Linked DNA regions of Homo sapiens. The protein of the gene in region 2 interacts with the protein of the main gene of each other region in a pairwise test. Each region holds a gene or a part of one and is shown on either strand. Other genes may lie near its edges. The genes, in order: SERPINB5, LRRFIP1 and SH2D2A.

The links.
Region 1: the proteins of LRRFIP1 (region 2) and SERPINB5 interact in a two-hybrid assay, tested with the Homo sapiens proteins (one large-scale study listed by BioGRID).
Region 3: the proteins of LRRFIP1 (region 2) and SH2D2A interact in a two-hybrid assay, tested with the Homo sapiens proteins (one large-scale study listed by BioGRID and IntAct).

Annotation. Positions count from the first base shown.
Region 1 is NC_000018.10:63,479,880-63,483,598, forward strand, and holds part of SERPINB5 (serpin B5), read left to right. Parts: intron 1-3,719. UniProt on the Homo sapiens protein: Tumor suppressor. It blocks the growth, invasion, and metastatic properties of mammary tumors.
Region 2 is NC_000002.12:237,630,567-237,634,285, reverse strand, and holds part of LRRFIP1 (leucine-rich repeat flightless-interacting protein 1), read right to left. Parts: intron 1-3,719.
Region 3 is NC_000001.11:156,814,049-156,818,324, forward strand, and holds the start of SH2D2A (SH2 domain-containing protein 2A), read right to left. Parts: upstream 2,801-4,276; 5' UTR 2,661-2,800; coding exon 2,627-2,660; intron 2,410-2,626; exon of another isoform or gene 2,065-2,409; coding exon of another isoform or gene 2,047-2,064; coding exon 1,958-2,046; intron 1,791-1,957; coding exon of another isoform or gene 1,782-1,790; exon of another isoform or gene 1,702-1,781; intron 1,174-1,701; coding exon 989-1,173; intron 277-988; coding exon of another isoform or gene 247-276; coding exon 157-246; intron 1-156. UniProt on the Homo sapiens protein: Could be a T-cell-specific adapter protein involved in the control of T-cell activation. May play a role in the CD4-p56-LCK-dependent signal transduction pathway. Could also play an important role in normal and pathological angiogenesis.

The DNA.
Region 1 (3,719 bases), on a different chromosome or scaffold from region 2:
CCATGCAGGATATGTTGATATCTTCAAGGGGAGACTTCAGGACATGCAGGATTTTTGGAACTCGAGAGACTTCTGAGAGAACAAATGCCAGCAAAGATGCAATTAACAAGAAAGCAGGTGATCAGGTGTGGCGGGGAAGTGCCAGGCTGGGAGCTAGAAGCAATGAATTCTAGGTCTGGTTTTGCCACTCTCACTCCCTGCGTGGGTGGCCTGGGAGACTCACTTCATCTTTGTCTGCCTCATTTTCCTCATCTGTAAAATGAAGAGGTGTGGCCAGCCTAGATCCTCTCCAAGATCTTGTCCCACTTTCAAGGTTTATAATTTGCACAGATTGCGAAAGCAAGGTACTTGGAAATAAGTTCTTAAAACTGCATTTGTATTACTGCTTGAACTTCCATCTATCTCACTTTCCTATGGTTAAAATAAAGTTCCTTTTAAACTTTTAAGTGCTGAAAGATGTAGCGTTTTCTACATTGCAACTATAAACGAAGTTCTCCTTGTTAAAATGGTTACAGGGTTTTCACAGAAATGGAAGAAGACCCTTGTGACAAGGCAACAGAATGAAAAAAAATTTGTAGCAATTTTAGCACTTTCAACAGAAGTCATTAGGCACATTAAATTTATTATATAGGAATTGCTAATCTCTACTCTGGTACTTGCAATTTTATAGCATTTGATCATGCAAAATGGTCTGTGTAGGAAGTTTGTATTTTTTCCAGGTCATGTATTGTTAACATTGCTGAGGTTTGTTTAAATGCTTTGATTGTCTTGCAACACAGTCATGTGGCAACTGTGGCCAAAGTCATCTTTTGAGCTACCTCAGACCAGATCAACTTTATAGTGTTTTTAGGTCACTTGGGACTAATCACAGAGCCACTGATCAGATTTACCGGGCAGTATTTGATTGATTACTTAGTGGGTGATTTTTTGCAACTACAACCTTTTCCATGTACAGACCTTTTCTGTTTCCTTTAGCCAGCATCAAACAATGCTCTTGCCACTGGGACCCCAGATACTAAGGGCTGTATGACCTTCCCAGACATGAAGGAGAATTTTCTGAGAAAGGAGCCAGTCAGCATAGGAACAGGAAGGCAGATCTCTTTGCGTTCATGCACTGAGGATTAGCATGCAAAGGAAGGGACTCACTCAAAGGGAAGGTCCGCCAATGGTGAGAGAAAGCCCCAGAGATGTTAGGATGTCAGATGTGCACTGATTTACATCTCCAACAGGGACCTGGATCTAAGCCTTGAATTGCAACACAGCATTAATTGTATTGTGTAATTAACTACACTAAAAGCCACAATGATCTTGTATCCACAATCATTTAGACTAAATGTATCTCAAAATGTTGTGACAAGTGAATGAATAATGCTTTAGTGAAATAAAATGGTAAAATGAACATCTCCTCACCATTTGATCCACTCCTAAGATCCATTTGTAGGTGTTTGCAGCCAAACTCCCTCAGCACATTAAGATCTTAAACACCATCTTTCTATACAAAGGAAATCACTAAAAGTATAGTTTGTTATTGACTATGCAAAATTATTCTAGTTTCTCTTGGAGGATAATAAATACGTGCTTGGAGGAGCTACTTGTGTTTGTTAAAGCAGTTTGTGTGTTTTCATATTATTATCAGTGCGATTAGCTCTCCACTGGTGGAAGTGTTAAGAAGCTTTCAGGGATCTGGGTTTAGGCTTCTCTATTTGGTGAAGAAATAACTCATTACTTCTTGTACATGTTGAGTTTTACTTGTAGATGAACTTGGCATTACTAATATTAAATGTGCTGTGGAAGGAAGCCAGGTTTCCTATTCTGAAAGTCTGTCCACAGATTCCCCAAACCTTTTGTGAAGAGTTTCTTTATGTTTTCCCAGTGGCAGGCACACTGGGTGAAACACTCAACAGGCTTTCATTTTTGCCTCAGTATACCCTGCTGACCTCAGTATACACCTAATGCCAGTCACCTTTCCCTGGGGTGTGATGTCACCTGTAGGCCCTTGCCCCTGCCCTGAGGGGAGAAGGAGTAAGGTTGTGGGCTTTAAAGAAAAGTGAGAGGCCCACCTGACTTCAGGGGGCCTCGTGGTATATTTGCAATGGGAACTGGCCTGAGCGCATGGCTGTACTTATCAGGGACATATGGAGAAGGAGGAAGCCCATGGAAATGACCAGTGAGCATGAACAGAGTCAATAAAACATTATTTTTGGATAATGAACTCGCTTTTTCAGACTCTGAGATATAATCGATTTAAGTCCATCCTACACACAAGCCATATATCCCATAAAAGGGAGAATTCTGAAGAAATGTTTAAAGACCAGGAGTCCTCTCCTCCATCTTATTCTCGTCTTTGCATTCTGAATTTGTGTCCAGGTATAAGGTGCAAATTGCAATCCTATTCATCATGCCTTTGACTCTTGACACACGTTTGGGTACTGGCCAAAGGGAGTCCTCTATCTTAAGCAGTGGAGCTTACTTTCTAATGCCAGGGTGCATGTCCTACCTGAAGACCTTCAATGTCACATTCGGCCCTTGTGTCTGTGTGTGTGCGCCTGAGGCTTTGGGGGAACACTTCGAGTTTAATCCCTGTACTGCTCACCCCGGGGTAGTAATATCAATTCATTTCCCTTAGAAACATGCTGTCCTGGCTTAGGCAGAACCTCAGGAGTTCATGTAGTTCAGCTCTGCTCCCAGAAAGGGAAGCCCTGACTGCCTGAATTTACCTAATTGTCTTTGGAGTCGATCAGTAACTACCAGACTAAATAGGTAGGTAGACCTTTATTAGAACAGTGAAGCTTTTTAAATCTGAGGACCCTGTTACACTCTTAAAAATTACCGAGGACCCCAAAGAACTGTTTCTTTAAAAAAAATGTAGATTATATCTATCACTATTTACCAAACTAGAAATGAAAACCAGACACATTTTGAAATGTTCATTTACTAATTTATTAAAATAATATAATAATTAAATACTAATATGAATAATATATATATTAAAAAACATTTTCTAAAGTGAAAAAATGTAATGAGAAGAGTGATATTGTTTTTCATTTTTGCAAATCTCCTTAATATTTGGCTTAATAGAAGGGATGTCATATAGCCTCTGGAAAACTCCGCTGTCTATTAGAGATTGAGAATGATAATGTCTTAGTATTATCATGAGAATAGTTTTAACCTCATGGACCTCCTGAAAGGGTGTTAGGGACTGCCAGGAGTCAAGACACAACACTTTGGAAGTTGCTGTGTTAAAATTAAAGAGCTCTGAGATGTGACAAGATGCCTAGTTGCTGCTATATCCACTTTACCAGGCTACATATTTTGAAACTGTTCCCTCTTTTCTTTAACTCCCATATTACTTATTATACCACTCACATGTCTTGGGCAGCTCTGTATTCTAGTTATTTGTCTGCATATCTGCCCAAAGAGACTATGAGCTTAGAGAAGGAGGAGGTCCACTGATCCTTGTAACACTCTGGGTAGTGTCTTACACACAGATGCGTATTATAAACGCAAACAATAACCGCTGCTGTTTATTAAGTATTGTTATGTGCTGGGTGTCCTGCAAAGGCATTAGTTACTTTAAGGGTTTTCTAGCACTTCTCACAAAGCACCACAAACCAGGCAGCTTAAAGCAACAGAAGCTTTATTCACCCACAGGCTTGGAGGCCAGTACTTTGAAATGACGATGTCGGCAGGGTCATGCTGTCTCAAAAGGCTCCAGGGGA
Region 2 (3,719 bases):
CAGGAGCCAGCTGACAGCATCTGCAATTGATAAACTAATGTGTAATACATATGTATGTTATTTATAAACAAGGAGATCATTACCAGATCATTGAGGGTCTTGTAGCTTGTTTAAGGACTTGGGTTTTACGGAGTGATACAAGACACCCTTGGAAAGTTTTTATCAGAGAAGTGGCATGATCTGACATATTTTAAAAGGACTGCCCAGCCTACTGTGTGGGGAACGGCCTGAGAATATGGGTAAAAACATATATTACTCTGATGAAATAAAAATCAATTTTTTAAAGATGAAAGGATGGAAAAAGAAGATGAGAGATACAGTAAGGCAGAGACAGATATGGGACTCTCTCTCCTGAAATGTCACCCCTGGTGGTTCACAGGTCAGTGGGGGACGACATGTGCCAGGGATAGGAAGAAGGTGGCTTGCCTGCAGGACATAGCCTGAATGGGGTCTTGGAGGGAGCTGAGGGGCTGATCCAGGAAGCAGCCTGGGCCATGAACTGGCAGCCCCTAATTAATAGGTGGCCTCAGCCATGTCCCATGGTGTCTCTGAGTCTGTTTTCTCTCTGTCAAACAGAGAGACTCGGAACTCTTTTCACAGGATTTAAACAAACTATGGGAGTAAAGCTTCCAGAGTACCTGGCACACCTTGGGTCTTAGAAGCAACCTCCATTCGCCCCTCTCTCCTTTCCCGTCTCACACTCACTGGGGACGGGCAGGGCTCACGGGGGACAGGCAGGGCTAGAAGCCAGGTCATGTTCTCCACACACACATCCCAACCCTGAGTACCAGGCCAACGAGTGGCTCAAGAGTCACCCAGAAAAGGAAGAAGGGAGACAGCTGGCCCTCTGACAGAAATAGCTGTGGGGTGGGGCCCAGGGCCGTTGGGGACCAGCAGGCCTGTCCACAGCTGAGTTTTCTGTGGACTCAGAAACCCAGAAGCATCTTTTGGGAATCGCACAAACAGCCCAAGGTCACAGGCACATTGTTCACGCCCTCCAACAGCTCAGACTGTTGGTAAAAATCCGTCTGGAACACCAGTCTTGTCACATTCCTAAAACCTTGTAGACGATCTGCCAAGATGGGTGTTTGGCTTAGGAGAATCAGCTGCAGAACAGCCCTCAGTGACTCCACTGCGGCTGGGTTCCAACTGGAGGCAGGATGTTGTTCAGGCTGGACAGTCCTGTGTCCTGCCGGGCACTGAACGCCCCTCACCTCTCCCAACTCCTGTGGAACAAAGGGGCAGGGCCCAGCCCCAATGGCAAACCAGTGTCCAGCAGCACTCAGTTGGTGTGCAATCTGCTGGCCAGCCTCAGAAAAGCAAATTCATAGAGAAAAAAGTCATGAAATTCACTTTCAAATCAAGTGAAATAGGCCTAGGGACAAGTCTGACATCTTGGTTGCGTGCAGGTGAATTCTGGCCCCAGGGTCACCTCACCAGAGGGCAAGGGACTGCATTGGGGACCCAGATTTGCATCTTTGCAGCTGGGCTCAGTCCTGGACTCTCCACCCCAGAGGAGCCAGGTCAGGTTAGTGCTGGAGAGAGGTAGAGCGAAGTTTCCACACTGAACCCCACTTCTGGGCTGTTCTGGAAAAGAACACGTGCACCCCATCCCCAGCTTGGTTCTCCAACAGCCTTGAGGAGAAGAGAGACAGGCTCCCTCCGCACAGGTTGATATAGGAGGGCTATTTGGGAAGGACAGGGAGAAAAGATGAATGAAAGGGGGACTTAGGATGAAAAGACCCGATATTTACGAACTACCTGAAACAAGGGGCATGGCTTTATGTTGGGTTCCAGAAGCAGAGCCCATGGCAGGACTGGATGTGAGCCCTGTCCCAGCAGGGGCATGAGGGGGGCAGGCCAGTCAGGGAAGGGCTGGGGAGGGAGGTGGTCTCGGCAGGAGTTGGCCTCAGCCTGGCCCGCAGAGAGCTCCGGAGCAGGAAACGTACCACAGAATTGGTTGCATCTTGAAACAAGCCTGGGGGACATTTTGTGACCTCACAAAATGGTTACTTGATGGCTGCAGGCTGCCTTGGGGGCAATGCAACCCCTTCTCCACAACTGGAGTCCTTGGGGGCTGTGTGACCCCTTCTCCACAACTGGACTCCTTGGGGGCAGTGTGACCCCTTCTCCACAACTGGACTCCTTGGGGGCAGTGCGACCCCTTCTCCGCAACTGGACTCCTGTGTGGCCGTGGCTCAAGTGAAAGGCGGTGGCTGTGAGGCCTGAACCAACAGCACCCGCAGGCCCACGAGTCAACTTGGGGCCGGTGAAGCAGCCGGGTGGGGCAGCAGTGCCCCTGCCATGGATCAGGGCCCGAGGCCGCAGGCCACAGAGGGGCCAGCTTGGAGAGGAGGCTGCAGAAACAGTTATGGGGGGAGGGCCTCCGTCCTGCTGGGTGAGGAAGGGGTACCTATGGCACCACCAGGGGATAATAAGCTCACCGCACTGTCTCAAGGCCCCACGGTGAGTTCCTAATGCAGCCTGCGCAAATGACTGTTCCTGTTGGGAAAAACATTCTTCATTTGAGAGCAATACTTTGAATTGCATGGTGAGACCAGTATCGCTTTACTCAGCTGCAGAGTGCTGAATGAGAAGTTTGGGATGCTACCAAAATGCACCAGTAGAATGTGAAATGCGGTAGGAGAGGAAAATCTATCTGCGTTGGAAACACCCCTCCCCAGAAGTGGGAGGCGCAGCTCATGCCTTTGGTGCTAATGAGCTTCTGCAAGTGCGTACTAAACCTTTCTCCTGATAACATCCCGCCTGAATTCCACTGCAACAAGAGAGTGAGAAATAATTGACTTGCGATAATACAGCATTTGCAAATAACTCCCTTTACTATACACGCTTGCCTAGAGTTTAAACCATCACATGGAAGCAGGACACCGGCTGCAGAAGCAGAAATGCACCCTCCAAAGGCTGCCCCCACCACGAGTCCTGCTTCTACCCAGAAGAGTGCAAAGCCCTGCCTGCACAGGGCAGCCTAGCTCTTCCCCTCGCTCCAGCGAACTGGAACCCACGTCCCTGCCAGGTGACTCAGGCTTCCCAATGACCTCAGCCCAGAATTTTCCACTTACTCTCCAGAAGGCATGTTCTTGGGTGCCAGGCCCAAGTGGCAGCCCACTCCCTCCCACTTCCTTGAAGCCTCCCCAGTTTCCATTCAGGCCCCCACCTTCCCAAGTGTTTCAGGGAGGCCGGCTCTCCCCAGTCCCAGGATGAGTCTGACAGGTCACAGGGTAGACCCACCCCCCTTTGCCACAGGCACTGAGCCCCTAAGTCCATGGTCCTTGTCAAAGAGCTTGGTGCAGGAGTGGCCAGACAGACTCATGAAAGTTTACCAGGGAGATACTGCTAGCTCTCTGGAGAGAGCCACCAGAAGAGACGGTGTGTGGGCTCCACAGTGGCAGCCCGGGAAAGCCAAGGCCAGCTGGCCTCCATGAAGCAAGTCAGCCTGAGGATGAGGCCACCCACAGAGGATGGCCCAGCCCAACCAGCTGCGCAGGTGCTGTGGGAAAAAGAGGCCGGAGCCACTGGTGAGGCTGGCGGGGAATCCTGCCCTGCCTCCGGGCTTGCTGTGCTCCAGCCAATATACTTCCCCTTGTCAATGTCAGTCCAGTCAGGGTTTCTGTCCCAGCAGCCAAAGCATCTTGACTGGTACATACAGCCTTCAAGAACTCAAAATGCCACTTCCTCCAGGAAGCCACTTCTGAGACCAC
Region 3 (4,276 bases), on a different chromosome or scaffold from region 2:
CCGCTCCTCGGCCAGGGTCACCAGCGAGAGGCGTGATCCCCACCTTCAGCAGCCCGGGGAATGAGCTAAGAGCCCGGCTCCTCACGGGATCAGACCCAAGCCCCGCCCCTCCCGAGCCCCGCCTTGTGTCGCCCGGCGCGGGGCCTCGCCCCTCACCTGTAAGTCAGCACGAAGGTCACCGCGCTCTCGCTGAACCGCACCAAGTAGCACCCCTGAGGCTTGGGCTCCAGCAGCCTCTCTGCCTCCCTGTGGGTGACGGAGAGAGGGGGCCGAACCCTGCTCTGACACTTCCAGCCTCGCCTCTGTCTCCCCGGCTCTCACGAGGAACCCCTACCCCCAAGCAAGCATGCTGGAGCGGCTAGAGAAAGGCTAGGGCGGAGATGGGGAGAGAGAGCACGTGGGCGCTGCTCTCCCGCTGCAGGGATTAGGCGTGGACAGGGGCCAGGGGTCCCATTCAGGAGACCCCCGCATCCTCCCCTGGCCTCATCCTGAAAGGGCAGCCTGCAGGGGCTGCTACTGCAGCTACAGGGATGGGAAAGTAGTTGGACTTCCAGATTTCAGAAGTCAAAGCTGAACTGAGGAGGTGAACAAAGAGTTAGGGAGAAATGAGGCTGAGAAATGGAGGAGGGAGATTCTGCAAGGGTGGAAGAAGAGAGGGCTGGGAGATAAAGATGGAGTAAGCCTGGAGGGAGAGAGAGGTGGAAAATACCAGCATTCGAGGCCTTAGGGACAGGAGGATAATGGGGCCTAGAGAGGGGAAGCTGAGGTACACAGAGGGCTGGACTGGAGCCTCTCCAATGATCTCCCCTGGAGAGATGCCTCAGTGAAAGGCTAGGAAAACTCTGGGAGTGGGAGCCTGGAGTGGGCGCCTCCATCTACTCCAGACTGGTAGAAGTGGGAGCCTTCATCTATTCCTGGCAGGTGGCAGGACCCAGACCCAGGACTTGCCCTGCCCCTGTCTGGGCCAATTTCCTCCTCCATGACTCACCTCCGGGTGATGAAGCCATGGAACCAGGCAGGGGCTGCCCCGTGCTGCAGGAGCCAGTGGGCCTGGGTCTTCTGGAACCAAGCCCGGGTCTCGGCCTGCAGGAACAGGCTTCCTTCTCCAGGCACCTCCTCTGCCCTCTCAGCATTCCCTGTGTTGGAGGCAGCCTCCGGGGCCTGGGGAGATGCCTGGATCAGGGAAGAGTTCAAGGAGGGGGAAGCAGCATGATGAGTGGGCCTTCTCCTGACTTTGATCCACCTGCCACCTTCTTTTCCTCATACCCAGCCTCTCCTGTCTATTTTAGGGTACAATTGCCCAGAAAGTCCTTCCTAAAGTCTAACTTAAATCCCTTCTTCAGCTCCAGCTGTTCTGGCTTCCAGAGACTCTCCTTCCTTTGCCCTCTGGGTCCTGAGGGCTTTTAATCCAGCAGCAGTGAGCTGTCACACTGTGCTCTAGGAGGGGCGGGAAAGGCAGCACAGCCTTCCAGATGGACAGAGTCATTCCCTGGCCTGGAGGATGAAGAAACATGATGCAGGAAGTCACCCTAGAGGCCAGAATGAGGGAGGGCTTACTTCATAATATGAGGGACTGACCTAGTTCGCAGGGAAAATTATTGACTGGGCAGGAGAGAAGGACTGAGACGGGAATGTGGAATGCACTGGGCAAATGGTCACTGACACAGAGTGCAGATGCCTGCTTCTGGGACTCAATGCACTGCACCCTGGTCATCTGCGGACTCAGCCTGAGCTTCCAGAGGGCCTAGGAGCAGTAAGGGAGTGAGTGGGCAACTCGGCGCATGAAGGAGGTACTCCTCATTTTCGTTCTCTCTCTCTGTGCCCCAGCCCGTTGGCAGACCCGGATCATTCCTGCCTTCTCTTGGAGTGGCCTTTGTCCATCTGCAAGTCCTTCCCCATGGGAGGGTGGGAGAGATGAGGGAGCTGCACCACGCTGCCGCCCCAGGTTTCCACTCACCGCAGTGTAGCCCAGGTTCTGGCAGCTCCTGCGGGTCATGTCTGTGATCTGGAAGGTGCTGAAGGTTGGGATGGGGGCTTCGTGACTCCCTGTGAGCACAAAGAGGGCTGCCGGGGTTTCTCAGAGAGGAACTATGTCTGTCTCTGCCTCCCACCCCTCCTCCCAGGCTCAGGGGATCTGGAGGGCTGGGACAGTCTTAACGACAGGAAAAACGCAGAAGGGCAGCAGGGGAGTTTCTCAGGCATGAGGTTAAGTAGCCAAGGCGGCATGGGGGGCTAATGCTGCCAGAGGAGGTTGTGAGGGACACCAGGTGCCTAGAAGGAGAGGCTGGGAGTCAGGCTGGCCTTCGGATGGTCAGGGAGGCAGATCACTTCAGGGCAGGCCCTTCTTCTGGTCCAGGATCTTCTGCCTCCTTCTCCCTTCATCCTCCTGCTCCCTCCTCTCTCCTCTCTGAGAAGCCCTCAACAAACCCTGTCACCTTTATCCTCAGGGATGAGTGGGCATGGAGCCCCAGGCAGGGTTGTGGTCACCCTGCCAATCAGCTTTGCCAGCTCTGGCTTAGGGTGGGGCCCCTCATCCCTGAAGTGGGAGCTCAAGCCCAGGAGGGAGGGCAGGGGGATGGGGGTCTTTGTGCCCCCTCCCACCCATATCCTTCAACTTCACACTTACCTTGGGGACATATCTGGGCCAGGGGGAACTCCATGAGGGCAGCCTCACAAGGGATCCCAGAGCAGGGTGTGTGTATGTGTTCCGGAAAGGTGTGCACACTCAGCAACTCATCATCTCTCCTCTCACCCTGGCCCCGGGGGCAGGAAATGTCGCCTTACCCACAGCCTTAGTTCTGGCGAGGACTCACGTCATGGAAAGCCTTAAGACGATTGTCCCACCCCCGGAAGCCACGCAGCTGTAGATAGCGGTGGTATAGCGGTGGGGGGTATCTGTGTCACTCTGTGTTTAGGTGTTAGGAAGCCCTTACTGCTGCCTGACCTTCATCCCTCCAGATTCTTTCTCTGCCCCCTCACCCCAAACTAGAACTTCCCTTTCTCTCTCTCTCTCTCTCTCTCTCTCTCATCTCTCTTGGCTTCTATTTCTTTCTCTCTGGAAAATCTCCCACTCTGCCTCTTGGCCTGTTCTGAGCAGTGGGAATGGGGATGTCAACCTCAAGGATAAGCCACACAAGGTGCTTATGGATCATGCTTTGAGGAGACATGAGGAAGGGAGGGGGCAGGGCTGCAACAGGAAGGATGTGGGTCAGACTTCTGGAAGGACTTTTTGAGGACATGTGAAATCTATGAGTCTGGGCATGGTGGCTCATGCTTGTAATCCCAGTACTTTGGGAGGCTCAGGCGAGAGAATCGCTTGAGCCCAGGAGTTCATGATCAGCCCTGGGTAACATAGTGAGAGCCCATCACTATTTTTAAAATAATAATAATAATAGTAATAATAATAAAGAAATCTATAAGACAAGGGGTTAGAGAGGAGGGGGCCTGGCTTCCATCATTCAGCAGATAATGGAGCTGAGTTAGGGCAAAACCAGGCAATATTGGAGGAAGGAAAGAGAATTCCTCCAGCTAAGCAGGTCATCATTAGTATCAACACTATCAGCAGTTGTCATTAATAACATCAGTGTTGACATCTTTTTTTTTTTTTTTTTTGAGACAGAGTCTAGCTCTGTCACCCAGGCTGGACTGCAGTGGCACAATCTCAGCTCACTGCAACTTCCGCCTCCCAGGTTCAAGGGATTCTTGTGCCTCAGCCTCCCGAGTAGCTGGGATTACAGGCTTGTACCACCATGCCTGGCTAATTTTTGTATTTTTAGTAGAGACAGGGTTTCACCGTGTTGGCCAGGCTGGTCTTGAACTCCTGGCGTCAAGTGATCCACCCACCTCGGCCTCCCAAAGTGTTGGGATTACAGGCGTGAGCCACTGCACTGGCCAGTGTTAATGTCTTAAACTTTCAATGTGCTTAGACTTCCCACCATACCAAAGGACCAATCCCATTTCTCTCTGAATTTATCTTCACAAACTAAGAAGGGGACAGGAACATTATCCCCATTTACCAGAAGCTCAGAGGAGTGCCTTGGCCAGGGTCTTTCAGTGTCTGAGAAGTTGGTGTGAGTGCTGGGACTAGAAGGTAGACTTCCTTTCACTAATTTCACTGTGATTTAGGCCAAAGGTTCATGACTATGTGCTATGCACTGTTCTTGGTACTGAGAACCCAGAGAGGAAAAAAAAAACTTTGTTTCAAGATGTCAGATGGGGGAGATGGACTTGCCAAGACTTACTGTTTTTTAAAAAATTGTGTACTGTTTTTTTGCTT